Linked DNA regions of Homo sapiens. The protein of the gene in region 1 purifies or fractionates together with the protein of each later gene. This does not show direct contact. Each region holds a gene or a part of one and is shown in the gene's direction. Other genes may lie near its edges.

Region 1 (7,034 bases):
CTGCTACTCTATTGTATGTTCAAATTGCAGCCAATAGTTAAATGTACTATATCTGAACAGCTCTTAGAACAGTGTCTGGCATGTTTTAAGTACTGTACAACCATTTATTAAAGATATAAAAACAAAGCAATATCCTTTTTCTGATACTTCAACACAATACATCAGGGATTCCACTTGGACTCAAATGTAGCCAAATACCAGGTATATTCTTTTACTTTTTGACCTTTGGTCTTTTTCCTGCAGCTTCACCTACTTCTAGTTTATGGGATTTTTTTTATGTTCTAGGCCCTGTGCATAGCACAGCAACTCATCCCCACTCTGTCCCTTTAGAGTGGGCAGATCATGAGTATTGTTCCCTGGGTAAAGTGTCTGACTGCCAGACCCACTAGATGATCTCGACCTGGACCTAGCAGTTCCTCTCTGTCTTGTTAACTGCTGTGCTAAATATTCCACCCAGCGTTTTCAGCTGTCTTCAGTGTAAGGCTTGCCCCAAGTTACCTTTTGTCACTATTGGAAATGAAAATTCTACTTCATGTGCTTTATGTAGTTTAAATCATATCTTCACAAGACCCTAAAAAGGAAACAAGTGGGTTTTCTTAGTTCTACAGATGAAGAAAAATGAGGCATGGAGAGTTTAATTTTCTTGTCATGGGTCATAGAGTTGATGAATAATAAATCAGATTTTGAACCCAGGAAGTGTGGTTACAGAGCTCATTCTGGTCCATTTTGTGCTGCTGTAACAGAATTCCACAGACTAATTTATAAAGAACAGAAATTGATTGGCTCACAGTTCTGTAGGCTGGGAAGTCTGAGATCAAGGGGGCTGGCATCTGGTGAGGACTTTGTTGCAGTGTCACCCCCACGGTGGTGGGGGAGAGAGAGGTGGTAGGGAGAAACAAAAATGGGGCGGGGGGGTTAGAAACAAAAGGGGGCCAAACTTTTATAAGGAGCTCATTCCATGCTAATAAACTCCCTCCTGTGATAATGTCATTAATTTGTTAAGTCTGCCCTTGTGGCCTGATTACCCTTCAGTAGGCCCCACCTCTCAACACTGTTGCATTGGGGATTAAGTTTCTAACATGATTTTTGGGGGACATATTTAAACCATAGCAGAGCTTGTGTTCTTAACCTCTGTGTCTACTCATTTTCTTCATTTCACAAAGCAGTATAAACTGTTTTGTCATGAAAAGCATTCTTTTTAAAAGGTCAAACAAGTCTCCATCTTTGCATGCTTCCCTTACAACTTTGGGCACAGCTTGGCAAAAGCCTAGGCATCTAGAATTTAATATCCATAAGTGTAGTATATTCTGTATCTTTTGAAATGGCCATGTAATATAGATATCAATTTAGTTCACTATTTTTATGGATTTAGACATAGCTTCACAAACATCTCAGTCTTGCAGAGAGAAAAAAATTATCTGAATTTTGCCAAAATTGCCTGTGTTGTTTTATTGAATTTGGTCAAGATATGCAGGGATGACGCATACACATCCAGTAATTGAACCATTTGAATGTCTGGTATGGAAACCAAATTTTTAAAATCTGGAATCTTCAACTCTGAAAACTCGTATCAGTGAATAGGACTCAGAAAGCTCAATTTGTATGCTTTTATGAGCCAAAAAGTACGTGGGATTGTGTCAAAGCAGGATACTGTTATTTACCTCAGATGACTGAAACCACACCAGGACAGCCAAGGGCCTTCCAGGGTGCCAGGGCATCGAAGTACCCTCCACGGCATTCTCTTGGGGATCCAACACTTACATGTCACCAGCAGCAAGAGCTGCTTCATTTCTTCTATTCCATTTGCTTGACCAAATGCTGATGCATTTCTTTTTCAGGTCCACGCTAGTTTGATTTTGTTATTAATATTGTTTTAAAAAATGCCTTTTTCTGCCTTTGGTAAACTAAAGGTCTAACATATATTCCAACTTCTTTTGACAGAGGAAAAGACAAGCATACGAATCTAACCTTATCTGTCATGGCCTGCAGTTAGAAGCAACAAGATCAGTAAGTACTGGTCCCTTTTCAGCCCTCGGCTGACCACTGTTCTCGGGCAGCTTCGTGCCACTTGGAATACTTGGGTGACATTGGAAACATGCAGCCCTGGCCACATCTTAGTCATAGACTGGGAGAGGAGTCAATCAAAATCTGCATTGTGTAGGATGTATTCTTTTTTTCTGATCAAAACTAGCAGATCTTTTTTAATAGCCAACGAATTTTACAATGAATGCATGTATGAATGATTATTTTCTTTCTTTAAGAAACTTCTAAAAGCTTTTTTGTTATACAAAAAATAGTTTATGGTAAAAAATTAGAAAACATAAGAATAAGGAAAATAATCTGTATCTTAATTATCCATAAATAATTTTGCAGTCCTTCTGAGCTGTTTTACTCAAAAATATATATGTACACATTTTTTATCTTTCAAAAAGGAGAAAATTACCACTTCACAGTTTTATAATTTGCTTTTTCCCTTTAATATATAGCAAATGGATTTATGTCAATAAATATAATTCTTTGACATTTTTAACAGCCACATAATATGATATTGAACAGATAGACAATAAGTTCATTCGAGGTTTAGAAAATTAAAAATTTTTCATTATGCTAGCACTACAATGAATATTCTAGTGTTTTTACTTTAAGTCAATAATTAGGGTAGAGTGATAGACAAATAAGTTTGGTTTTCTTCATTTTATAAATTATTTTCATAGTTTTATGAACTATGATGATTTGAATTACTTCCTTAATGATTCAAACCAAGAAATCGTCTTTAAGACAAAAATTTATGATGGTTTGCAAATCTGTTTTTATTGTTATCTTCACTTTTAGTGGTGGTCTCTGTATTGTTTTTTTAAAGCTACCAACAACATAAGAAAAATCTATGTGTTTTAAAATTGTGAAAAGAGTTGGTTTCTTGTTCTGCGTTTTTATTTTTCCAATATAGGTATTGGATGACAAGCTTGTATTTGTAAAAGTACACGCACCATGGGAGGTGTTATGTACGTATGCTGAGATAATGCACATCAAATTGCCTCTGAAACCCAATGATCTGAAAAACCGGTCCTCAGCCTTTGGTACACTCAACTGGTTTACCAAAGTCCTCAGTGTAGACGAAAGCATCATCAAGCCAGAGCAAGAGTTTTTCACTGCCCCATTTGAGAAGAACCGGATGAATGATTTTTACATAGTTGATAGAGATGCTTTCTTCAATCCAGCCACCAGAAGCCGCATTGTAAGTCTAAACCAAATTTAGTTGCTGTCTTGGGGTAATTTGGAACCTGCTGTTTTGTGGTTTGGTTGGTTTGGTTTTATTTTTAAAAACTGCACAAAAAGAAAAGAAATATGCCAGCAGATTTGTGTTACAGTAGTAAACAATGATTGGATTGGTTAATTACACTATATAAACCGCATACTCTATTTTGGAATCTTTTTAGGTTTACTTCATCCTCTCTCGGGTCAAGTATCAAGTGATAAACAATGTTAGCAAGTTTGGGATCAACAGACTTGTAAACTCTGGGATCTACAAGGCAGCTTTCCCACTCCATGATGTAAGTTAAAAGGCAAAAATGAACTAAAAGGCCTTCTGTATACTCTGGTGTTGACAATAGCAAAGGGCTAACTTTCCTGACTGTAAGTTTCTTCCTCAGTAAAATGAAGGGAACATACTGCAAGATTACAAGCTCATTTAGGGTAAGAACTAGGTCTTTTGTTCACAGATGGATCCCAGTTATAAAGATACTCAGTTTTAAAGGAGCGAATGAATGAATGGACAGGACCTCTCTCACAGTTAATGTGTAAAGCAGTATAGATTAGCAGTTAATCTGTGTTAGCATTTCTGAGACCAAAATGCCTGCCCTGCCACTTTCTAGCTGGATGACCTTGTGAAAGTCATTTAGCCTTTCTTCCTCCATTTCCTCATCAATAAGCTGGGGATAAATTATTACCTACCTCCTAGAGTTGTTAAGAGGATTAAATTAATCCATTAAATTAATCCAAATGTTAGTCCCTAGCATATAATAAATACTATTATAAGTGTTAGCTGTTTTCATAATTACTAACAGATGTTATTATCAACCAGAAAAGATTAGTTCTTTGTCAGCAAAATACATGTTAGACCTTCTCATTTATCATTTTCTGCAACATAGACTTTTCTTCCTCATTTGGAATACGATTTTCAAACTGTCCCCTGGAATATCCCTGGGCTTTTAAAAAGGCATCTGTCAGGGTTGTTGTGACAATGGCAGTACCCCAGATGGTTGACATTTTTTTAAGGACTACATTCTGAGACCACAGCAACCCCTCAAATTCAAGAGTACTTCTCTAGCCGAGAACATCTCTCGTGAAATGAAATTTTTAAAATGTGACCACTGTAAATGCAGGGACATTATAACTAAAGCTGTTTAAACTCTGTCATTGAAATAAATTAAATACTATATTATATTGCATTATTACTTTGTTATATTCACTATCAATTTATCTGACTGTGTAAGACCAAAGAAAGTAAAGACTGAGATTGGTAATTGCTACTGTGTAGTACATGTATTTGTGGATAGAGACGATATTGAAATGTACTGAATAACATAATAAAACTAGGACACTAAACAGCAGCTTGATACACATGGAAAAGTAGAGAACAGGGAGCTGGGTGAGGTAAATACTGATCCTAAGAGACCCAATGTAGCCATCCAGCCTGAGAGTCCATGTGTTTTACTTTTGTGCCCCACTGAATTTAGCTAATTGCGAATAACAGGACATGAATTTTGAGGCCACTTGCAAATAGCTGTCACGAATATTAATTTGGGATGCCAGGGTTCTCTAACAGTTGACATTTGCTTTTGGCCATGTCTTTTCCACTAAAGCCTCTTCTAATTGCAGTGGTCCTGTATTCAGGCTAACAAATGGTCCCATGTGGTATTTGAGAGGGAGGTGTGTGAAGGTCAGGGCCTGTGCCCTGATTTGGCTGGGTGGTAATCTGGTTCTAGTGCCAGAAGAAGAAAAATGAGTCAGAAAAAAAGGCAACTGGATTTAAGCAGGAAGTTTTGTTTCTTGAATAAGCTAAGTGTGTAACATGATACCCAGCTTTATTGTTTGTTTTCTGTATGTTATCACAGAATAACTGCTGAACTGGGGGCAAAGAAGCCTAGGTTTTAGAATTGACCCTGCTGCTAACCAGCCAAGGCCTTGGTTTCCCCATTGTCCAAGGAGAGGGGTGGGTTATCACGTGTTCCTCTGGTGTGGTGATTTGGGCACTTGGGTGGCCCAATTTTTCATTGTGTAGGACTGCCCCACTTAAAGCATTTTAAGCATCTCTGGGGCCCTCACAGAGTCCCTGCAGTGCTCCCCAGGATTGTAACACCCAATCGTTCATCCCTGCCCACATTCATAAATGACCCCCAAGGAGGGTAGTACCATGCCTGGTTAAGAATCACTAAAAATTAGATGGTATTTCCACCCTTTCCAGAAGGTGAGGACCCCTTGTTCACAATTGACTATCAAGTATTTGTATCACATTTAAGAAGCAGATTTGTGAAAACACGATGATTATGGTGCTTACATGTTCCCTTCTGCGTCACAGTGCAAATTCCGCCGTCAGTCAGAGGATCCCAGCTGCCCTAATGAACGGTACCTTCTGTACAGAGAATGGGCTCATCCTCGAAGCATATACAAAAAGCAGCCCTTGGATCTTATCAGGTGAGGGGTTGTAGGGAGTACTCCAGGGGGAGGCACTCAGGGTGTTACCCCCACAGCATCTGAATGTGACAGTACTCATCAAGACTCTTGCCAGTGAAGGGAGCTGACCCAGAGTGCTGAGCTTCGTTGGCCAGGGTTTTTATTGAGGCTTAATTATGTGGGCATGATTAATTGAATCATTACCCATCTCCAGTATCATCCTCCCCCTGGAAGATGGCCAGTAATATGTGGCTCAAAGCTCCAGTTCTCCAATCACATGGTTGATCTTCTGGCATGGCCAGCCTCCACCCTGAGTCATCTCATTAGCACAAACTCTCTAGAGGTCCACCATGAGCCACTTCACTGGCATAAACTATCAGGCGTAGTCCTAGGGTCCCACTGTGAATAAAAAGGCACTCCTATCTCTCAGGAAGTTCCAAGGGTTTAGAGGTTACCCACCGCCCAGGAACTGGGATGCAGACCCACCAAATTCCATATTGCACAGAAGTAAATGTTAGATGTAGTTTCTATTGTATGGTAAGACATGTACATTTTCACTCTTTTCTTATGTCTGCCTCTAGGTTCTATTTCGTTGTATCTCACAAGATACAATGACTAGCTCAAGAGTTTTTCTTCCCAAGGTACCCTGTTGGTTTTCCTCCAGAAGCTTACGTTGTTTGGGCAGGGCTGAGGATTCTGGCTTGTGGGAGATAGACCAAGAACACCCAAACAAGCCAATAAAACATGAAAATAAATAAACAGAATTTCTAATGGAAGTGAAGAAAATAACAGAGCAATAGGATGGGAGGGCAGAGTGGGAAGTGAGTTGAGGGAGTTATCTTTGAGGAGGTGACTTTTAAGCTGAGATCGGATAGTGAAGAGGAGCCAGTGCTTTGAGGACTTGGCAGAAGTCCTTCTAGGAATAGGGGCAGCTTGTACAGTGGCCCTGAGATGCACACACATTTGGCAAGTTTGAGGAAACATCAGAGACCAGTGCTAGTGAGAAACAGAGCAAGACATGAAGTTAGAGGGGTGGCAGGAGCGCCGAAAAGAGTTTAGACTTTAATTGCAGTGAGAAGCAGTTGTAATATTTTAAATGTTTAAGTCATTGTATCCTATTCACGTTTTGCAGATAATGTGGAGAATGGATTATAAGGGGTACAGGGAGCAGGGAGACCACTAGGTAGGAGGCTGTTTGAGCCAGGCAGAAGACTGTGGGAGCAGATTTGGGATGTGTTTGGGGAGTCGGGTCGACAGGACTTGTTTATGGATTGGATGTGGAGAGTGACGAGGAGAGGAGAGTTAACTTCATGTCTGTCTGGAGCCACGTACCTGTTTTTTTATGGTGTCTCAACACCCCA
Region 2 (7,034 bases), on another chromosome or scaffold:
ATTATCTTGCTTCAGCCTCCCAAGTAGCTGGGATTACAGGCATGTGCCACCACACTCAGCTAATTTTGTATTTTTAGTAGAGACGTAGTTTCACCATGTTGGTCAGGCTGGTCTTGAACTCCTGACCTCAGGTGATCCACCCACCTCGGCCTCCCAAAGTGCTGGGATTACATCGTGAGCCACCGCACCCAACATAAGAATGGTTTTTACCTTTTAAAGGGTTGTAGGAAATAACAAAGATTATGTGATAGAGTCAGTATGTGGACAGCAAACTGCCCTATTTAGTCTTTGATCTTTTACAGAAAAAGTTCAAATTTTATGTTGTTACTAATTGCAGACAACCCGAATAAACATACTAGAGCCTGGGATTAAATGGCACGCAGCCTTTTTTTTTTTTTTTTTTAAGTACAATTTCCATTTTATTTTTTCTCTGGAGAATAGTCTGTTTTTAGTCGTTTTATTTTCATTTTTTTTTTTTTTGAGACGGAGTCTCGCTTTGTTACCCAGGCTGCAGTGCAATGGCACGATCTCGGCTCACTGCAGCCTCTGCCTCCCAGGTTCAAGCGATTCTCCTGTCTCAGCCTCCCTAGTAGCTGGGATTAGGGGTGTGCCATCACGCCCAGCTAATTTTTTGTATTTTAGTAGAGATGGGGTTTCACCCTGTTGCCCAGGCTGATCTCGAACTCCTGAGCTCAGGCAATCCACCCACCTCGGCCTCCCAAAGTGCTAGGATTACAGACATGAGCCACCACGCCTGGCCTTGTCTTCAGTGTTGAAGGACTCAGCTCCTTACATGGGCTTTGGTGGGTGTGTTTGGTCCTTGTGGGCTTTACAAGGTGGATTCCTGACGACTTTTCTGTGAATTGCACATCTCACACAGTAATTTAGCTTCACATACAGCTTGGGAAGCACATAGGCATTGAAGACACTCGCTTCACAAATGTCCCTGACTGCTGCGGCCTCCACCACATTTCGAATGATGAATTTTTTTTTTTTTTTTGAGACAGAGTCTCGCTCTGTTGCCCAGGCTGGAGTGCAGTGGCGGGATCTGGGCTCACTGCAAGCTCCACCTTCCAGGTTCACATCATTCTCCTCCCTCAGCCTCCCGAGTAGCTGGGACTACAGGGGCCCGCCACCATGACCCGCTAATTTTTTTTATTTTAGTAGAGACGGGGTTTCACTGTGTTAGTCAGGATGGTCTCGATCTCCTGACCTCGTGAGCCGCCTGACTCAGCCTCCCAAAGTGCTGGGATTACAGGCGTTAGCCACCTGCCCAGCCTCGAATGATGAAATTTCTTAATGGCCTTGTCCTTGGGCACACGTCGGGCACAGTTTGTGCAACGAATAGGCTGCATGTGGCTGTGCCCCTTTTTGGCATGATTGTTGTTCCTTCTTTTCTTTGTCATCTTGGAGGCACGGACTGGAGGGAGGAGTGTAGCCATTATTGATCATATTTTTGACTAATATTTAGTGAACTAGAAGTTGCTTATTTGTGATGTCAAGTAGGATACAAATAACACAGTATGATTATAATTTTGTAAAAATGTATAAAGTGTGTATATATGTATGAAAAAAACCAAAAATTCTCTAATGTATTAATAGTAGATATTTTGAGATGGTGGCATGATTTTTATTTATAAAGTATTTCTTATGATTATAGAATCATATTTTAAAATTTTTCAGTATTTTAACTGAGTGGGAAACATTTCCTGTCAAATAAGGATATGGAGACCAGTCCATGGTACTTTAGATTAAAAGCTGAACTCACTGGGAAAAACCTTATTTTGCATGTGTAACTAGTAAAGCAGAAACAACAGTGTACTGTTCGGCACTGTCTGAATAGTAATTATAGAGTACAGCTTTCATACAGAAAAACAGAACCAATAAGGAAGTCAAACTTGGCAGAATAGTTGAGTGCAATTTATAAATAAGTCAGTTGAAGAAATCATCGACCTTTTACCTGTGGCTGATTCGTGTAATGGTGAGAGTCAGCACAAATCTTAACATTTAGCAACAGCATGTATGTGAAGCTAAAACTTGTAATGCTCTCATCTTTAATGTATTTTAAGGAAGTTGATGCCTAAAGTAAATTTATTAAAAATTCAGAGTTAATTATTTAAGATAGTAATAAATTTTGTGCTCTCTTTGGCTTGGTTGTTCTTTATCTTTAACAATTTTAAGAGCTCTGTTCATAAATATCAGTCTTGTAAAGCCCATTGTTCTATACCTGATTTTTCTATTTTATTTTTAAGGTCTTTTTGGTTCATCACGGGTGCAATATGTTGTAGATCATGCAATGAAAATTGTTTTCCTCAATACTGACCCCTCTATTGTAATGACTTATGATGCTGTTCAAAATGTGCATTCTGTGTGGACTCTCCGGAGAGTCAAATCAGAGGTAAGGAGAAAGGCAAGTCACTTCTCCTTAATAGGAAAGGGTAGGCTGGGTGCACTGGCTCACACCTGTAATCCTAGCATTTTGGGAGGCCAAGGCAGGCGGATCACTTGAGGTCAGGACGTTCAAGACCAGCCTGGCCAACATGGTGAAACCCCATCTATACCAAAAATATAAAAAATTAGCCAGGTGTGGTGGCTTCTGTAATCCTATCTACTCGGGAGGCTGAGGCAGGAGAATCACTTGAACCTGGGAGGTGTAGGTTGCCGTGAGCCAAGATCATGCCACTGCACTCCAGCCTGGGTCACAGAATGAGACTCCATCTCAAAAAAAAAAAAAAAAAAAGTATATATATATATGAAAGAGTAGTTAATACTTCATACCCTCACTTTTTTTTTTTTTTTTTGGAAAAATCACTTGTGAATAGTTTTATTATCATCATCATCATCATCATCATCATCATCATCATCATCATCATCTCTAGAGACAGGGCCTCACTCTGTCACCCAGGCTGAAGTATAATGGCACAATTACAGTTCACTGCAGCCTTGAACTCCTGGGCTCAAGTGATCCTCCTGCCTCAGCCTTCCGAATAGCTAGGACTACAAATGTGTACCACCACTCCCAGCTAATTTTTAATTTTTTGTAGAGATGGGATCTTGCTATGTTGCCCAGGCTGGTCTTGAATTCCTTGGCTCAAGCTATCCTCTCTCCTCACCCTCCCAAAGTGCTGGGATTATAGATGTAAGCCACGGCACCTGGCCTCATTTGAGAAATAGATTGAGCTTCTTAGGAAAGAAGAAATACTGTGTCTTTAGTAACTGACTTCAACTTGCATTCTTACAAGGAAATTGCTACTTTATTCTAATTATTGTTTTTTTTTTTTTCCTCTTTCTCTTTATTTTGACTTAAGGAAGAGAATGTTGTTTTAAAGTTCTCTGAACAGGGGGGAACCCCACAGAATGTGGCCACTAGCAGCTCCCTCACAGCACATCTCAGAAGCCTCTCCAAAGGAGATTCCCCTGTGACTTCACCTTTCCAGAATTACTCCTCCATTCACAGCCAGAGTCGCTCAACCTCATCACCCAGTCTACATTCTCGCTCACCTTCTATTTCCAACATGGCAGCTCTAAGGTATAAGGGTTTCCTGGTTTTTCTTTCTAAGCTTTCTGTTTTGTTTTGAAGGATTTAGAATTTCTGTTGACAGCTGTTTTTAGGGGAAATATATTTAGGGGAGATGTTTTTTAGGGGAAATAGCCATTATCCCAATTGAGCCTTTTTTTTTTTTTTTTTTTTTGAGACGGAGTCTTGCTGTGTCACCCAGGCTGGTGTGCAGTGGCGCAATCTTGACTCACTGCAAACTCTGCCTCCCGGGTTCATGCCATTCTCCTGCCTCAGCCTCCAGCTGGGACTACAGGCGCCTGCCACCATGCCTGGCTGAGTTTTTTTTTTTTTTGTATTTTTAGTAGAGATGGGGTTTCACCGTGTTAGCCAGGATGGTCTCGATCTCCTGACCTTGTGATCTGCCTGCCTTGGCCTCCCAAAGTGCGGGGATTACAGGCGTGAGCCACCGTGCTCAGCCCTGAGCCACTTTTACTAAGATTTCTAAGTTTACCATGTCACATTCTTTCCTGAGTCATATTTTGAAGCTGCCTATGCTTGACCTAAGGTTAGTTGCCTCATTTCTACCACTATGTGGGCAACAGTTTGATGAATATTAATTCCCAAAATACTGTGGCACTATTTTATTTTTGCCTTAATTTATGTTAGTTTTTCTTTTTTTTTTACTTGTTATTTGATATGTAAATGTATCTATTTCTCTATATAGATATATATTTAAATGACCAGATATGTATATCTGGTGCTACAGGGACATTGTTTTGTTGATAAATATATATGTCTGACTATACAGGGACATAGTTTAGAGCTTTTTGAATAATCATTCATTTTCCGAAAAAGAAGATGATCTAAGTTTTAGTTGTAAAAGATGAGTTCTTCTAATAATAATTCTAAATCTTTAGAATATAGTAAAGCACATTGACATGAACCATTTAAATAGCTACTCCTTTTTGAAAAATTTTAATTTCTGACCTGGATTATGCCATGAATGCTCTTCTGTCTGTGGAATTTTTGGAAGTGTCATTGGAGTGTGTGTCATATAAGCCTGCCTTGCTAACTGTGATGTACTCTCTCCTCTGTTTATTTTGCAGTCGTGCTCATTCTCCTGCGTTAGGAGTGCACTCTTTTTCAGGGGTGCAAAGGTTCAACATTTCAAGCCATAATCAGTCTCCAAAGAGACATAGTATTTCTCATTCTCCAAATAGTAATTCTAATGGCTCCTTTCTTGCACCAGAAACGGAGCCAATTGTTCCTGAACTGTGTATTGACCATTTGTGGACAGAAACGATTACTAATATAAGGTTTGTTATATATATTATTATATTCAAAGAAAAATGTTGCTGAAAGTCTTGGGAAATATATGGCATTTTGTTTAAAGTTTCCTTTTAATGTGATCAGTTATTAATATATGTAAAAATATATAGAGATATGTATTAAGGCCACCTCAGTTTCAGTAGAGGATATTAATGATATTAAAGTGATCATAGGCTGGACGTGGTGGTTCATGCCTGTAATCCCAGCACTTTGGGAGGCTGAAGCTGGTAGATCACTTGAGCCTAGGAGTTCGAGACCAGCCTGGCCAACATTGTGAAACCCTGTCTCTACTAAAAATACAAAAATTAACTGGGTGTGGTGGTGCATACTTGTAATCCCAGCTACTCAGGTGGCTGAGGCAGAATTGCTTGAACCCAGGAGGCTGAGCTTGCAGTGAGCTGAGATCGTGCCACTGCACTCCAGCCTGGGTGACAGAGTGAGACTATCTCAAAAAAAAAAAGTCATCATAAAAATATTATTTTGTCATCTGATATTTCTTCCTTTATAGTAATAATCTCTCATTTTTCGGGTGTTTTTTGTTCTGGGGAGAAACAGTTAATTTCCATCCGTGAGGAAATGTGGGGTTTTAGCACGTTTCCTAAGTTTTATGTTCATGTTAGTTGAGTGCCAGCTTTACTTTTTGGGAAACATAGCTTAGATCTCTGTTCTGGGTGACCTTTCTTCTTTTATATTCTCTTTAATAATTCACGTGTTAATTTATATGCCAATGTGTGTGCTAGTTAACAGTCTAATAAGTCACTGTCCCTGTCCTCAAAAGAGGCAGATAGCTGAAGGATGGTGACACAGGAGGGACTACTTTTGCTGGTAGGGCTTTGAAAGACGAATAGGTATTCGCTAGGCAGGGAAGTTGAGAAAGACCACAGACGGCAGCTGGGATCAGAACAAAAGTTCTGGTGAGTGCGTGGTGTATTTAGGGAATTACAAGTACTTCCACTCTGGTTTTTGCAGAGGGGAGGGAAAAGGCTAATGAAGAGGAGGCTTCCTAGGCGCAGTGGCTCACACCTGTAATCACTCACTTTGGGAGGCTGAGGCAGATGGATCACTTGAGCTCAGGAGTTCAAGACCAACCTGCCCAAAATGGTGAAACCCCATGTCTACTACAAATACAAAAATTAGCCAGGCATGATGGCGTGCATCTGTAGTCCCAGCTACTCTGGAGGCTGAGGTGAGAGAGTCATTTGAACCTGGGAGTTGGAGGTTGCAGTGAGCCAAGAGCACACTACTGCACTCCAGCTTGGGCAACAGAGTGAGACTGTCTGAAAAAGAAAAAAAGGAGGCTTGAGAGATTACTGATTGCCCTTTAGGCCTCTGGTATGTTTGATGACAGCGGTAAGAAGGCACTTTATAAGTGTGTCGGAAGTTTGGGAAAGAGCAGAACAATAAATGTGGAATTGTCAGCTTATAGGTGGTGATTGAGGTAAGAGAATTAGATTAGAATTGAAGAATTATTGTATTCAATAATTGTGTGTACATGTAGTATATAGGCCTTTTCCCAAGGAGAGGGTTTTAACATTCCTTAGATTCTCAAAGGGATTTGTGGCCTCCAAATAGTTAAAATCCAGTGGTGTAGAATGAGAAGAGGGCTAGGAACTGAAGTCCTGGAAACTTAAGATTTGGGGAATGGAAAGAGACAAAGCTGGCACAGAGAGACAAAGCAAAAGAGGTCAGATGGGAGAAGCAGCAGGAAATACAGAATACAAAAAAGAACATTTCAAGAATACAGAGATGCCAGTATTGCCAGGTACTGGTGAAGTGTGGCCCTGAGAGTTGAACCCAGAGAGGAGGTACCTGGGTGGCAGTGGGTTCCTTGGTGACCTTGGCCAGAGCATTTTAAGCTGGGAGGGTGGCGGGGGAAAGTGGGGTAGAAAAAGTAAATGGGGACTGAGGAAATGAACATAGGCATACAGACTCTTTAAGGAGTTTGCCTTTGAATAGGAATGAAGATACAAAATTAGAGGGAGTCTTGGTCAAGGAGAGTTTTGTTTTTGCTGAACTATAATAAAATTAGTTTTCATGACATCTTGCCCCAGTATTTTCTTTTTCTTTTTTTTTGAAACAGGGTCTCACTCTGTCACCCAGGTTGGAGTACAGTGAGTGACTCAATCACAGCTCACTGCAGCCTTGGCCTTCTGGGCTCAGGTGATTCCCCAACCTCAGCCTCCCAGATAGCTGGGACTATAAGCAC
Region 3 (6,977 bases), on another chromosome or scaffold:
GTTGAGATGGGGTTTCACTATATTGGCCAGGCTGGTCTCGAACTCCTGACCTCATGATCCACCCGCCTCAGCCTCCCAAAGTACTGGGATTACAGGTATGAGCCACCGGGCCTGGCTCTTCCTTTTCTTTGATACATTCCTCATTAATAAGCATTCTTCCTATTGCAACAGTCTGAACAAAATGATTTGATTTATAGTCCAGTGCATCTCACCTTTCACACCCTTCTCCTTTATTCCCCTTTTCCTCATCACACAGAATTTTACAATGAGATTTCTGCTTGTGTCAATCTATCAGAAATTCAGCTGACAGGGTGCATGACACTGCGAATGAATTTAATGCCTTTGAACTGAACACACATGGTCCTGACTTAATGATGGTTTGACTTAGGATTTTTAGACTTTAGGATGGGTTTAGTTTTTCTGTAGGTAACCCCATTGTAAGTTGAGGACCATCTGTACTTAAAAATTATACGCTGTATTTTATGTATTTTTTTTCTTTTTTTTTTTTGAGACAGAGTTTCACTCTTGTTGCCTAGGCTGGAGTGCAGTGGCGCGATCTTGGCTCACCGCAACCTCCACTTCCCAGGTTCAAGCGATTCTCCTGCCTCAGCCTCCCAACTAGCTGGGATTACAGGCATGCGCCACCACACCCGGCTAATTTTGTATTTTTAGTAGAGACGGGGTTTCTTCATGTTGGTCAGGCTGGTCTCGAACTCCCGACCTCAGATGAGCCACCCACCTCGGCCTCCCAAAGTGCTGGGATTACAGGTGTGAGCCACCGCGCCCGGCCTTTATGTGCATTTTACTACAATTAAAAATTCATCTTGCAGAGAAATGCAATGGAAATAATTTATTCAAAACAATTAGAACCCCTACTATGTGCTGGGTGATAGGTTGGGGTTGGGGAAATGGGTGGGGCCTGAGTTAGGAAATGAGTAAGACCTGCTTCCTGTGGTCCTGGAGCTCCCAGCCTTGCTGCGGAGACAAACCCATAATCTGTTAATTGAGCTCCATAATTCCAGGTGACACACATTACAGTACACATGCGTAGCGCCTGATTTCAGTCAGGATGCAAAGGGCTTTGAATGCTACACTAAGGACTTTGGATTTTGGTAATTGGGAGTTATGAATGGTTTTAAAGCCAGTGTATGACACGAACAGATTCATTGCAATTCCTAAAGTCTTAGCACCAGACATTTGACATTGTAGGGTGTCAAAGACTGATGGCAGTGACAGGCTGGGCACCATGGCTCACACCTGTAATCTCAGCACTTTGAGAGATGAGGTGGGAGGATCGCTTAAGGCCAGAAGTTCAAAACCAGCCTGGGCAACATAGAGACCCCCATCTTTAGAAAAAATTTTAAAAATTAGCTGAGGCTCACCCAGCAGTTTGAGACTGTAGTGAGCTATGATCACAGTACTGCACCCCAGCCTGATGGATTGAGACCCCATTTCTTCTTTTTTTTGTTTTTTTGAGACGGATCTGCTGCTCAGGCTGGAGTATGGTGGTGGGATCTTCTTGACTCACTGCAACCTCTACCTCCTGGGTTCAAGTGATTCTCCTGCCTCAGCCTTCCAAGTATCTGGGATTACAGGCACCTGCCACCACGCCCATTTAATTTTTGTATATATATGTATATATATATTTTTCGAGACGAAGTCTCACTGTGTTGCCCAGGCTGGAGTGCTGTGGTGCGGTCTCGGCTCACTGCAACCTCCGCCTTCTGGGTTCAAGTGATTCTCCTGCCTCAGCCTCCTGAGTAGCTGGGACTACAGGCGTGTGCCACCACGGCTGGCTAATTTTTTGTATTTTTAGTAGAGATGGGGTTTCACCATGTTGGCCAGGATGGTCTTGAACTCCTGACCTCAGGTGATCCGCCTGCCTCCCAAAGTGCTGGGATTACAGGCCTGAGCCACCGTGCCCAGCCAAGACCCCATCTCTTTAAAAAAAATAGCTGTGACAGCTTTAATTTTAAAAAGTTGATCCCCTGTAAAGTAGGCTCATAATTATGTTTATCTTATTAAATATATTCATGCTCAGGAAAGCAAGAGAGTGTTAACTTTGGTTAAGTCTATTGGGAAGACATAAACACAGATCTGTCAATTGCTCTATATGAGATGTGCATGGAACACTTTGAGAGCTCAGACAGGAGAATCTACCCTGCCTGAGAGGTTTGAGAAGGACCTCCAGAAGGAAGTGGACTGCAGAAAAAAAAAAGAGGGAAGGGAAGCTGGAGCATAAAGATGGAGGAAAAGAGTCATGGGCAATAAGGCCAGGGCCAGATGGCAGGGGGCTTTGTGTGCCAAATTGAGGGGCTTGAATCTCCTCCCCACAGGTGATGGTGAGCCATCAAAGGCCCGGTTAATAAGAATGATGATGATGAAATAGCGCTTATGGCTTGGTGCGGTGGCTTACACCTCTAATCCCAGCACTTTGGGAGGCTGAGGAGAGAGGATCACTGAAGTCTAGAAGTATGAGACAAATCTGGGCAACTTAGTGAGACCTCCCCCACAACCCCATAGCTACAAAAAATAAAAATTAGCAAGGTGAGGTGGCACACACCTGTAGTCCCAGCTACTTGAGAGGCTGAAGTGGGAAGATCCCTTGAGTCCAGGAGGTTGAGGCTGTGGTCATGCCACTGCACTCCAGCCTGGGTGACAGAGAGAGACCCTGTCTCAAAAACAAAAACAAAAACAAAAACAAAAAAAAAAAGAAAAGAAAAAAGAAAGAAATAGTGCTTACTACACGCAAGGCACTGTTCTAAGAGGTTTACCAATATTGACTCATTTAACCCTGACACTTACCATGGTTAGATAGTTTGGATCACTTTAGTGGCTACGTGGAGACCAGTCTGGACACATGTTGTGGTGCCGGATAAAGACGAAGGGATGTGCCTGTAGTCCCAGTAACTCAGGAGGCTAAGGTGGCAGGATCACTTCAGCCAGGGAGGGAGAGGCTGGAGCTGAGATTGTGCCACTGCACTCCAGCCTGGGCAACAGAGCAAGACCTTGTCTCTCTTTTTTTTTTTTTTTTTGAGATGGAGTTTTGCTCTATGTGGCCCAGGCTGGAGTGCAATGGCTTGGTCTCGGCTCACTGCAACCTCTGCCTCCCAGGTTCAAGCGATTCTCCTGCCTCAGCCTCCCAGTAGCTGGGATTACAGGCACGTGCCACCACGCCTGGCTAATTTTTTTTTTTATTTTTAATAGAGACGGGGTTTCTCCACCTTGGTCAGGCTGGTCTCGAACTCCCAACCTCAGGTGATCCGCCTGCCTCGGCCTCCCAAAGTGCTGGGATTACAGGCGTGAGCCACCGCGCCTGGCCAAGACCTCGTCTCAAACCAAAAAGAAAAAAAAGAGGAAGGGAGGAAAGGAGGTGATGGCTTTTAGAATTAATTAATTTGTGTGCTTTCAGTTCTTTTATATCTGTAGGTTGCTTGATGGCCCAGACTATCACGGCAAAGGAGTCATTTGCATTTGAAGAGAATGTGTCTTCCGCAGTTGTTAGGTGGAGTTTCTATAAATATCATCAGGTCAAGTTAGTTGGTAGTGCTGTTCAAGTCTTTTATAAATTGATAGTTTTCCAGCTATTTTACGGATTTGTCTATTTCTCCTTTCACTGCTATATCTTCCAAATTGATTCAGAGAGCTGCAGTCAGGAGCGTACTATTGCAGAGAGGATAGAATGTTTGGGACCAGAAGAAACGTTTTATCTCTTTAAATTTACTCTCGTACGCAGAAAACAAAATACAAATAAACTACGTATCCCAGCAAGCCTAGTGGAACTCAGGGCAAATGCAAATAAGGGGGGGGGCTGGGCATTCGGCTACGCCCCTTTTCTGGGTTGGCAAGGCAACTGATACAGAAGCCAGCCAATCGGTGATATAGTCACCTGCAGGGGCGGGGGCTTGACGAAAGCCAATAGGACGCAGGGCAGATGGCTCTTCGGGCCAATGGGTTGGGCGACGGGGCGGGCTTTTGATGAAGGGTCGTTGGTGGGAAAGATGGCGGCGACTCTGGGACCCCTTGGGTCGTGGCAGCAGTGGCGGCGATGTTTGTCGGCTCGGGATGGGTCCAGGATGTTACTCCTTCTTCTTTTGTTGGGGTCTGGGCAGGGGCCACAGCAAGTCGGGGCGGGTCAAACGTTCGAGTACTTGAAACGGGAGCACTCGCTGTCGAAGCCCTACCAGGGTGAGGCGCCCAGGGTGAGGTGGTCGTGCAGTGGGGCGGGCTTCGGGACTTGATTTCAGGGGTAGAGGCGGGGGCGGCGAAGGGCTTCGTGGCCCGGAGGAAACTGCTGGCGGTGGTGGGGCCCACGGAGACTCCCTCCGCGTTTGGGAGCCACAGGTCTGAAAGGCAGGAGTTAGGTGTGCCTGCCAAGCTCTGGAAGTTTCCAGTAGGTAAAGGCAGGGCTGTCGGGTGCCACTAGTACTAGGCCTGGAGTTAGACAGGAGGAGTTTGGGAAGGGGAGAGAATTGAGAATGGTGAGGAGTGATTGAGGGCTACTAGCAATGAGCCAGTCTCCAGATGGACCTGTGGATGTGCTAGAAATAAAGCAGGAGGAAGAACTGGGGTAGAACTTGAACGAAATGAGAAGATGATAAATTTATGTTGCTGGGTAGAACCACCTTCTCTTCTCCAGCCTAGGGGCCCTGTTGGTGAAAGAGGTTAGGGTTCACAGAACTCTAAGCACAGCTTATCAGCCAGAAAATTAATGCAGTTAGCCACAAAACGATGACAAACCAGTGCAGATGGCTTAACTAACACAAGTCTTTCCCCACTAAGGCGTAGGTAGTGGGACAGAAAACAATTCAAAGTGCAAGAGTATACTCTACTACTAAGGGTAATCATTTATTCACTTACATGCCTGGAGTGCCTCTGTGCTGTCTCTTTGCTAATGCTTATGGGTTTGCAGACACAAAGTTTTCATTCTTAAAGAAGTTTATAGGTGAGGGTACAGGGAGTAGCTTCACACTTTAAGGATTGTTTAAAGAAAGAATGTGACGGCTGGGGCGGTGGCTCACGCCTGTAATCTCCGCACTTTGGGAGGCCGAGGTGGGCGGATCACGAGGTCAGGAGATTGAGACCATCCTAGCTAACACGGTGAAACCCCATCTCTGCTGAAAATACAAAAAAATTAGCCAGGTGTGGTGGCGGGCGCCTGTAGTCCCAGCTACTCAGGAGGCTGAGGCAGGAGAATGGCGTGAACCCGGGAGGCAGAGCTTACAGTGAGCCGAGGTCATGCCACTGCACTTCAGCCTGGGCAACAGAGCGAGACTCCATCTCAAAGAAAAAAAAAAAAGGAAGAATGTGACTAAGCCCCGGAGGCCTGAGGGTCAAACTCTTTTTATTTATATTTATATATTTTTAGAGACAAGGTCTTGTTCCGTTGCCTAGGCTGGAGTGCAGTGGCACAATCATGGCTCATGCAGTTTCAATCTCCTGGGCTCAAGCGATGCTCCCAACTCAGCCTCCTGAGTAGCTAGGACTATGGACAAGGACTACCACACCTGGCTAATTTTTTTTTTGGTAAAGACAGGGTCTTTCTATGTTGCCCAGGCTGGTCTCAAATTGCTGACCTCAAGATGCCCTCCCTCCACATCATCTCAAAGTGTGGGGATTACATGGGTGAGCCACTGCACCTGGCCTGTCAAACTCTTTTTGATATAACTCAGGAAAATTTTTTTCTTTTACGATGCTGAAGTTTACTCACATATAAAACGGGAAGAATGGATGTGAGCTATGGTTACTGTAACATGCATAAAGTGAGAGTTCTGATGTGCTTTGGGGTCCTTACCTGATAAAGGCCTTGTGAAAGCTGTAGAGATGGTAAGATTCATGACTGAGAGAAGATAGGAGATTGAGTGACATTAAAGGGGGAAAAAGATGATGGCTCAGCTTTCAGAGGCTCTGTGGTGGCTGCTTTCTGAATGGATTGGTGTTGAAAAGTATGAACTGATCTACTTCCTTCCTGTAGGTGTGGGCACAGGCAGTTCCTCACTGTGGAATCTGATGGGCAATGCCATGGTGATGACCCAGTATATCCGCCTTACCCCAGATATGCAAAGTAAACAGGGTGCCTTGTGGAACCGGGTGGTAAGAATCTTTCTCCCTCCTGTGTTGGTGACCCAGAAAGGCCTAAAAAGTTCAGCAGTGGCATACTGATTTAATTTTACTGTCTATCCCCCTGGTATTCTATCTTCTGTGGATATCAAGGATCTTTATTTTTGAGATTATTCTGACCTTGATAATAAATAAATCAGGTATTTAGGAAAATGCTCTCTATTTAATTATAGCAAATAATTCATTTTTTTTTCCTGAAATGTCGTTAATTCCTGATTGGCCCAATAGTACTACTTCTTAGGGTTTAATAATAACTTAACTCCTGCTTAACCACTTTGTAAGAAGATTATAAGAAGACCAGAGTGCAGTGGCACAATCATAGCTCACTGCAGCCTCAAACTCCTGGGCTTAAGGGCTCCTCCTGCCTCAGCCTCCTGAGTAGCTGAGACTACAGGCATGTGCCACTGCACCTGGCTAATTTTTAAAACGTTTTTTGTAGAGATGGGGTCTTGCTATGTTGCCCAGGCTGGTCTCAAACTCTTGGTCTCAAACAATCCTCCTGCCTTGGCCTCCCAAAGGTCAGGGATTATAGGTGTGAGCCACCGGTCCTGGTTGAGAGTACTCTTAAATTGATCCCAAACCTTATCCCAGCATCCCCATCTTGTTATTTCAATTTGAAGAGTCTGATATAAAATTTTATTTTCATGTGAAAGCCACTCTGAGCTGTTGGTCATTTTATTTGTCCTTCTCTGGACCTTTTCTAGCTGCATTGTCTTCCTTGAGGTATGGCGACAAGAAGTGAATGCAGTATTCCTGGTGTGGCTGCACTGTGATTTTGTACAAGTGTAAGATGATGCTTTCTTTTCTGTTTCCAGGGCTTTCTAAATCTTTTACGACCAGTTTACTTTTGGGCATGA
Region 4 (7,000 bases), on another chromosome or scaffold:
AGAAGATATGGGGCAGTAAATTTTCAGGTCTTAAATTGTACCAGGAGGAGTCTTGTGCTGCCAGAGGGCATGACTTAGTAGTCTAATTAAGTGTGCAATGCCTGGCCTCCCAAGTCCTTAGTTAACATCTCTAGTAGCCCAGGGGCTGGGAAAGAAAATGACGCATGGTCCTCTGGCCAGCCCTGCATTGACTGTCTTACTCATGTAAATGAGGGGGCATCCTGGTGCAGATAACGGCTTTTATTTCTCTTTGGCTTCGGGTGTGTCATAGTTGGGGGTGTTTTATTACATCCATTTATTGGATTCATCCACCAAATATCTTTGCTTCCCAATTGTTTTGTAAAAACAGATTCATAGTAAGTTTAATCTGCCTTCTATCATAAAAACTGTAGTTGATGATGAGAGGAAGTGGCCCAGAAACACAGGCAGCCAGAGGGGAAACTGGAATTTGAAGACTTAAAACAAAAACAGGAAAAAATAACTTTCTGTAAGACTTCTCAGTGCTGTTAGTTTTGTCTTTTAATTAGAAAAAAGTTCCATGGTTTCTATTTCTTGGTCCTTCACATCTCTAAATGAATCAGACCCACAAGTGAATGGCACATTTGTTCCCTGGCCTTCTCTGATCTGGACACACTCAGGCTCCACTTGAGTGAGCCCAGACAGGTACCCTCCAGGTCCTAGCTACAGATGCGCTCCGTGGGCAGACGGCATTCAGCACCTGCCAGCGAGGGCTTCAGACGCAGATATCCCTATTTGTAACCATTCAGACCTTCATCAGAGCATCAGAAAGCAGGGGCTGGGCCATCTCAATGCAGGCTTTGTGGAGCTAAGATTTCATGGGGCACCCTTGGCCTTTCTGGAGGGTGGACACAGGAACAAGCAGGTGGGGACGTGTTTCTTGGCTTTGGTGAGGCTCTTGCTGAAAGTCTTATTCTTTGCATGGCTCCAGGCTTACCGAGATCACAGACGGGCATTTGAATTTCAGATTCATGTTCTTTCCCTTTTCGGTCGTTGAAGACGGTGACACTTTGTGTTTTTCTTTCTGCCTTTGTGCTGCTGAAAACGTGGGGACAGGCTGGGAGTGGGTGTGTTGTCTTAATCAGGCCGTCTCGTTGTCTGGTACCGTCTGTCCTCCTGTTTCCTTTAGGTGGTAGCAGCCTCTGCTGAGTGGTTTGTGTGAGTTCGCACTGAATCCTACCACAATCCTTACTCAGATGAGGGCTCTGAGATTCCACCTAACGGGAGACGAGATGGCAGCTGCTGACATTCTGCCCTGTCTGCAAGCTCTCCTAGCTCTTCCAGCTCTCCCATCTCTGCAAACTCCGACAGCAGTTGCTCTTCCTCTGAGGAAGCTGAGCGACTGCATCATCCCCCGACCACGTCGCCTCTGCTCAGCCCTCTTAATGGCCGTCATTCCAAGGGAAAGGCAGGAGCCAGGAGCCTCTGGGATGCAGCCCCTTGGTTACAGTGTCTGCTTTCAGCTTTGCCTCTGCTTCTCCAGGGTCTTTCTCAGGCAGTTAACCCAATATTTATCAACTCTCTCCCTAGGCCCAGCACTTGGCAGAATTTTTTTCTATTTTGTAAAAGTATGAGATATTCCTTGCTGTTTAGTATTTGACAGTGTGGCTGGAGAAGTAAAGATGGACAGACGGACCCCTCCCACCCACCCCTCCTTGCTGACCACTTGTCCCGTGCCTTTCCAGTTCTGTCAGGCCAAGCAGAAGGCAGCCTTGCTGGAGCTGCTGCATGAACTCTACAATTTCCTGGCCATCCAAGCTGGTGAGTAAGTCACGTAAGTCCTGAGATTCCTCTTGTGAGAGCTATGGGCGGCTGACCCGGTTCATCAGGCTTAGTTACACTGCTGCTGGCCAGCGAGACACTCCCTGGTTGTCTCTCAGAAGGCATATTCAGAAGCCGAGTCTCACCTTCTCGCCTCCTCACTCAGGCACATCTTTTATAAGCCTTGTGTTTGAACAAAACATATTTGATTCTTGCTCCTCTTTAAGGGAGGTCCTGGCATGTGAACAGGCCTTCCTGCAGCTGTTCTTCCTTCTTGGGGATGCCCACTACCTAATGCTTTGGGGGTCTCTGTTGGCATGGGAAGGGGCCAAGCCCCAGGTGTTGTCAGGATCTGTGTCCTTCACCCTAGAGGGACCCTCTGAACCAGGTGGTTGGCTGGGCCCGGGAGAGGCCTCTTGCCTGTGCAAGTAGCAGATAGTCTGTGTAGTGGGCCCTGGTGTCACATCTGGTCCTGATCACCATGTGGCTGTGGGACCTCGGACAAAGTCCCTGATCCTCTCAGGGTCTTCATCTCCCTGTCTGACCAAGGGCTCTTGGGTCTGTCTGTTCTCTACAAATGAGAGTCAAGTGCTGTCCTCTAAAGGAGGGCATTCTCAGCACCTCTGTGAAATGCCCCTGAAAATGCATCCAGAAGATGCATCCCCTACTGTTTTATTTGGTGAAGTTATTCCTTGAGGCCAGAGATACCACCTGCATTATTATGTCCTGCCCGACGCCTGGCATCCAGGAGGCTCTCAAAATCACTTGCAGTTGACATAGGTGAATATCAGCATGTGCGCCTTGTGTTAAATGCGCTGGACACAAGAACCAGACAGAGCAGTTCTATCTTAAGGGATATTCAAGAGGCGCCTCTTACCTGTGGGGTCAGAGGACAGGTCTTAGGATTGTGAGGTCAACCCTTGTCTAAGGTTTCACTGGGAAATTAGGGTCGGGTGGACTTCTCCTGGGCCCTCAGTCCTCAGGGTCAATCTCATGAGCATCAGCTCTTCTGCCTCCTCCCTCTTGAAAGTGAGAGATGAGATGGTAGGGGAGGCATCCATGAGCACTTGGAGGAGAAACAGGTACTGGGGCTCCTGCTCACAGCATCATAGGAATTCCTCTGTACGGCCCAGGTGCTTGGGATGTCAATTCTGACCTAAGAGAGTGTTCCAAACCTTTGTGTCTCAAATGTGGTCCAAGGACCCATAGCATCTGCATCACGTGGGAGCTCACTAGAAATTCAGAATCTCAGGTCTCATGCCAAACCCAGTGAATCAGAGTCTGTATCTTAAGATCCCCAGGGGATTTGAGTGCACCCTAAAGTTGAGAAGCACTGCTCGAAATTGGGTCCTAGTAGATATTTCTCCTCCATCCTACCCTCCATATGTGGTCTTGCCTTATGCCCTCAAGGGCCCTGGCACCTGTTGCCCTCCGACAAGCCTGGGGGGCCGCCTTGAAGGTACATATCTCATTGAGACAGGAGTGTGCCTCACAGAGGCTCCCTAGTAGTCCTCAACCCCTTCCATGCCTCTCCTGTTAGGGATCCGCTGTGGGCTGGGCACTGTGCAGGCCCTTGCAGTGAGATGACTCAGCTCCAGGTCCTGCCTGCAGGGCCCAACCCCGGCTTGGGGTCTACTGGAAGAGACAGGCCACCTACCTCCCTGACCACTGGGTGATATAAAATGTGATTAGACAAGAACCAAGAGGCCAGAAGTTCTGGGAGGCACAATGCCTTTTAGCTGGAGCAGTCAGGAGAGCGTCACAGGAGGTAGCATCTGTGCCAGGCCCTGAAGCCCAGGTAAGACTGGTTACATGTATGTGGGGAAGGACAAGGCAAAGCGGCAGGAAATTACATCTCGAGTGGGAAGCAGCACCTTCATGGAGGAAGGGGAAGATGAGAGAATGAAGTTTGGAAGTGTTGGTTGGGCCCTACCATAGATGGCCTTGGATGCCAGGCCACCAGAGCTTGATCTGGCAGGCAGTGAGGGCCAGAGAGGCTTTGAGCAAGGGAGTATCATGCTGAGAGCCAGGTGCCAGGAAGGTGAATGCGGCAGCAGCTTGAGTAGCACAGTTAAGCAGAATCATTTTCAAGTGTTATTGACAAAACAACTGGATTGGGAAAGGGAGAGGAGGAACCGAATCGAGAGGCCATCTACGTGGTCCAGGCAGGCCTGGCAAGGGCAGGAAGAGTCCTAGTGGGAAAAGGAGGATGCTAGAAGCCACCTGTGTCTCAGGGGACCCCTGGGGTCAAGATCAACTTTGAAGTAGGAGGATCTGGCTGTGTTAGGGGAAGGCGACAGGCTTCAGTTCAGTTTCAAAGTTTTAAAATATGACCTTCAGCTGCTCCCTTCCCCAGCATGCAGAAACACACTCACTGGCCACCCGAAGTCCCCCAGGCTGTGCTGGGTCAGGGCAGTCAGGCCACGCACACGTGTTAAATAGTGTATGCGTGCGTGGCCCTGCACCCTCCCTGCTCTCGGGGAGTCAGGCAAACCACAGCACAGGAGCGAGGACCAAGGGCTATGGCAGGTCACCAAATCTGGGGCCATTTCATCAAACAAAAGGCCCCCAGGGGCTGAGGGCTTCCCAGGGGAGATGGCCCCTGGGCTGGACCGGGGAGGTTGGGCAGGACTAAGTGGGAGGCTGCCAGCTCCATCCTATGGGAGCAGGCCTCCAAAGCCACTCGGGGGAGCTGCCCCTTGGCGTGCTGTGCTGAGGCCCCACTGCCCAGCACACAGACATCCTCTTCCTCCAAGGGGCCCCTCAAGACAATAGACCTGGCATTCCAGGTCGCCTGCCTGTGTCATGAGTCAGAATCCCCGTGGTGCCCATGGCCTCCCTGCCTTTCTTTTTTCTCAGGCTGTGTTTATTTATAGTGCCATTCCGGTACCTTCCGAAGCTATCTGTCTGATTCTTTTAGGGATCAATTGCAAAGAGACCTTGCTATTGGGCAGCTTTTTAGTCATTTAATGCAAAATGCCACACTGCTTTGCAGGTCAGGTTTTAATGATCTGGAATCGATCCAAGCTAAGTGGCTTTTGATCTTGCTGCAGAGTGAAGATGCCCCACAGAAGCCAGGAGCCGCTGGGCAACATGCTCCTTATTAGAGCTGATGGCTTGATTCTTGCTGCATTTTTTAGTCTGTTTCAGAGTGATTTTTCCTTTGTGTTTGAGCATGTGTGGTTTTTTTTCTCCTAGGTAATTTTGAGTGTGGAAATCCAGAGAATCTAAAAAGCAAATGCATTCCTGTTATGGAAGCCCAAGAATATATAGCCGTAAGTAGGCTTCAGTGCTTATACATTCCTGGGAGGGCCTGGTGCTTTCCTATTGGTCTTTCAAGCCCTGTTGGGGTTTTTGTTTTTTGTTTGCTTTGTGGCTTTTGTACTAGGCTACCTTAAGTTAAGGTTTGGTTTATGGCTTTTTGTGCTAGACTACCTTCAGTTAAGGCAGCCATGGTAGTGACTGCCCCAGAGCCAGGCCGCCATGTGCAGTGGGGCGGCTCACTCCTGACTGCTGCACTGTAGGTGTGCCTGTTACCTGCTTCTCCCTTGGTTCACTTTGCTCGTCTTGCCTTCGGCTTTCAGGAGAAACATGCTGTCCCTTCTCCCCCGTATGATTACCATTCAGACTGCCCAGGGGCCGTCTGATTTCCTGTGTGGCCTCAGGATGGTAGATTATAGAACTATGGAGCTGGTATTCCAGGTCGCCTGCCTGTCCAGTAACTTAGGGGTCATCTGGTTCCATTTGCATTTCACAGATGAAGAAACTGAGGCCTGGAGAGGGTCAGGGACTTGCCTGAGGCCAGACCACTTGCACCGGCCACTGGGCTCACCCACCCCCAGCCACAACGCTGTTATTCGCTTTACCCTAAGATGAGCTGCCAGCTCTCTGGCCTGATGCTTCCATCCTCGAGAGAATCATATTCTTTTGGCCGCCTCAGACCCGCACTGTTTTCCTGCTTGTGCTTCCGCATCACCTCCTCTGGTTATAGCCTCTTCCTTGGCTTTCATCAACCCCCGATTTCCTTCCTGCCACTTTGCTGTGCTTTTAGCAGAACAGGGTTTTGGGGCTGTGGAGGACACGGGAGAGGGCTTCCTTAATCCAGCAGCAGAATAATGTTCCAGCTGCTCCGCCCAGACGCCGAACTAACCTTCTCCCGCGCCCTCCCACAGAATGTGACCAGCAGCTCCTCCGCCAAGTTTGAAGCCGCACTGACCTGGATACTGAGCAGTAACAAGGACGTGGGCATCTGGTGAGTGTGGGCAGGGTGGCGACGCAGCATGGGTGCCTGCAACCACTGTCCTCGCTCGTCAGCTAACACCCGTGCTCCAACAGAGCTGTCTCAGGTCTGAAGCTGGAGGCTGGGTCTCCCAGCAGAATCATGTGGGTTAGGATGGAAGTGGGGCAACAAAAGCAAGAAGCATTTGGAATGCAGTGTAAGGAGCAGCTTCAAGATGAGACACAAAATCCAGGTGTTAGGATGTTAGCCTGGTGTTCCAGCTAAATCCTGTCTCAGGTAACTCAGTCTGTGCCTTTCTCATTCATCAACAACACCACATGGTTTGTTGGGGAAGGCATTTTTCTGCACTTCCCCTCCTCGGGAGCTAGTTTTTATTTGTAGATGAAATTATTCTTTCTGTATGTTGGTTTTACTTACTATGGAAATCGCATAAGGAAATACTGGATTTTATTCTGACCAGGCAGTTTCTGCCTCATTTTTATCACTGGTGAGCACTGTTAGAAAAGGTAGCAAACCCTTTCATGAGGCTGAAAGGCTGTATCTGGCGGCTCAGCCCAGGGGGAGGGGCGTGTCAGCCAACAGCCAGGCAGCCTTGAGAGACCTGTCCCCTGCTGGCAGAGCAGCATCACTTCCCCACTTCCCACTCTCGGTGTTTGTGGGGGTCTCTGTTCAGGTTATAGCTCTTGATATTAAAACGTCTCTAGAGTTTTGTTCTTTTCCTCTCTAATCCACCCAAATTACTAATTCCATCAGCACTGCATCCAGCAGAAGCCCCTCGGGCAGCTCCACCTCAAGCTGGATAACTGGATGCATGGCACGATTAAAATTTGTTGGCTTAAAAAAAAAAAAAAGCTGCCCTGAGTAGCTGAGCAATTTTCCTGTGTTAGAAAAGGCGGAGGAGAATACGGATTTTATCCTCAGCAGCAGCGCTCACTGAAGCTGCTAACACAGAAGAATGATGACACTCACCTTTTCATGTTG

The links.
Region 2: the proteins of ANO6 (region 1) and ANAPC1 purify together in Homo sapiens (affinity purification with mass spectrometry; 2 studies listed by BioGRID and IntAct, with this or other methods). This does not show direct contact.
Region 3: the proteins of ANO6 (region 1) and LMAN2L purify together in Homo sapiens (co-immunoprecipitation; 3 studies listed by BioGRID and IntAct, with this or other methods). This does not show direct contact.
Region 4: the proteins of ANO6 (region 1) and LEMD2 purify together in Homo sapiens (affinity purification with mass spectrometry; 2 studies listed by BioGRID and IntAct, with this or other methods). This does not show direct contact.

The regions. Positions count from the first base shown.
Region 1 is NC_000012.12:45,345,081-45,352,114, forward strand, and holds part of ANO6 (anoctamin-6), read left to right. Parts: intron 1-1,941; coding exon 1,942-2,007; intron 2,008-2,947; coding exon 2,948-3,235; intron 3,236-3,437; coding exon 3,438-3,551; intron 3,552-5,578; coding exon 5,579-5,694; intron 5,695-7,034. UniProt on the Homo sapiens protein: Small-conductance calcium-activated nonselective cation (SCAN) channel which acts as a regulator of phospholipid scrambling in platelets and osteoblasts.
Region 2 is NC_000002.12:111,860,170-111,867,203, reverse strand, and holds part of ANAPC1 (anaphase-promoting complex subunit 1), read left to right. Parts: intron 1-2,252; coding exon 2,253-2,398; intron 2,399-3,308; coding exon 3,309-3,529; intron 3,530-4,605; coding exon 4,606-4,815; intron 4,816-7,034. UniProt on the Homo sapiens protein: Component of the anaphase promoting complex/cyclosome (APC/C), a cell cycle-regulated E3 ubiquitin ligase that controls progression through mitosis and the G1 phase of the cell cycle.
Region 3 is NC_000002.12:96,737,065-96,744,041, reverse strand, and holds the start of LMAN2L (VIP36-like protein isoform 2 precursor), read left to right. Parts: upstream 1-3,977; 5' UTR 3,978-4,001; coding exon 4,002-4,188; exon of another isoform or gene 4,189-4,202; intron 4,203-5,974; coding exon 5,975-6,093; intron 6,094-6,824; exon of another isoform or gene 6,825-6,905; intron 6,906-6,977. UniProt on the Homo sapiens protein: May be involved in the regulation of export from the endoplasmic reticulum of a subset of glycoproteins. May function as a regulator of ERGIC-53.
Region 4 is NC_000006.12:33,779,131-33,786,130, reverse strand, and holds part of LEMD2 (LEM domain-containing protein 2), read left to right. Parts: intron 1-1,611; coding exon of another isoform or gene 1,612-1,638; exon of another isoform or gene 1,639-1,670; intron 1,671-1,703; coding exon 1,704-1,779; intron 1,780-4,977; coding exon 4,978-5,054; intron 5,055-5,951; coding exon 5,952-6,031; intron 6,032-7,000. UniProt on the Homo sapiens protein: Nuclear lamina-associated inner nuclear membrane protein that is involved in nuclear structure organization, maintenance of nuclear envelope (NE) integrity and NE reformation after mitosis.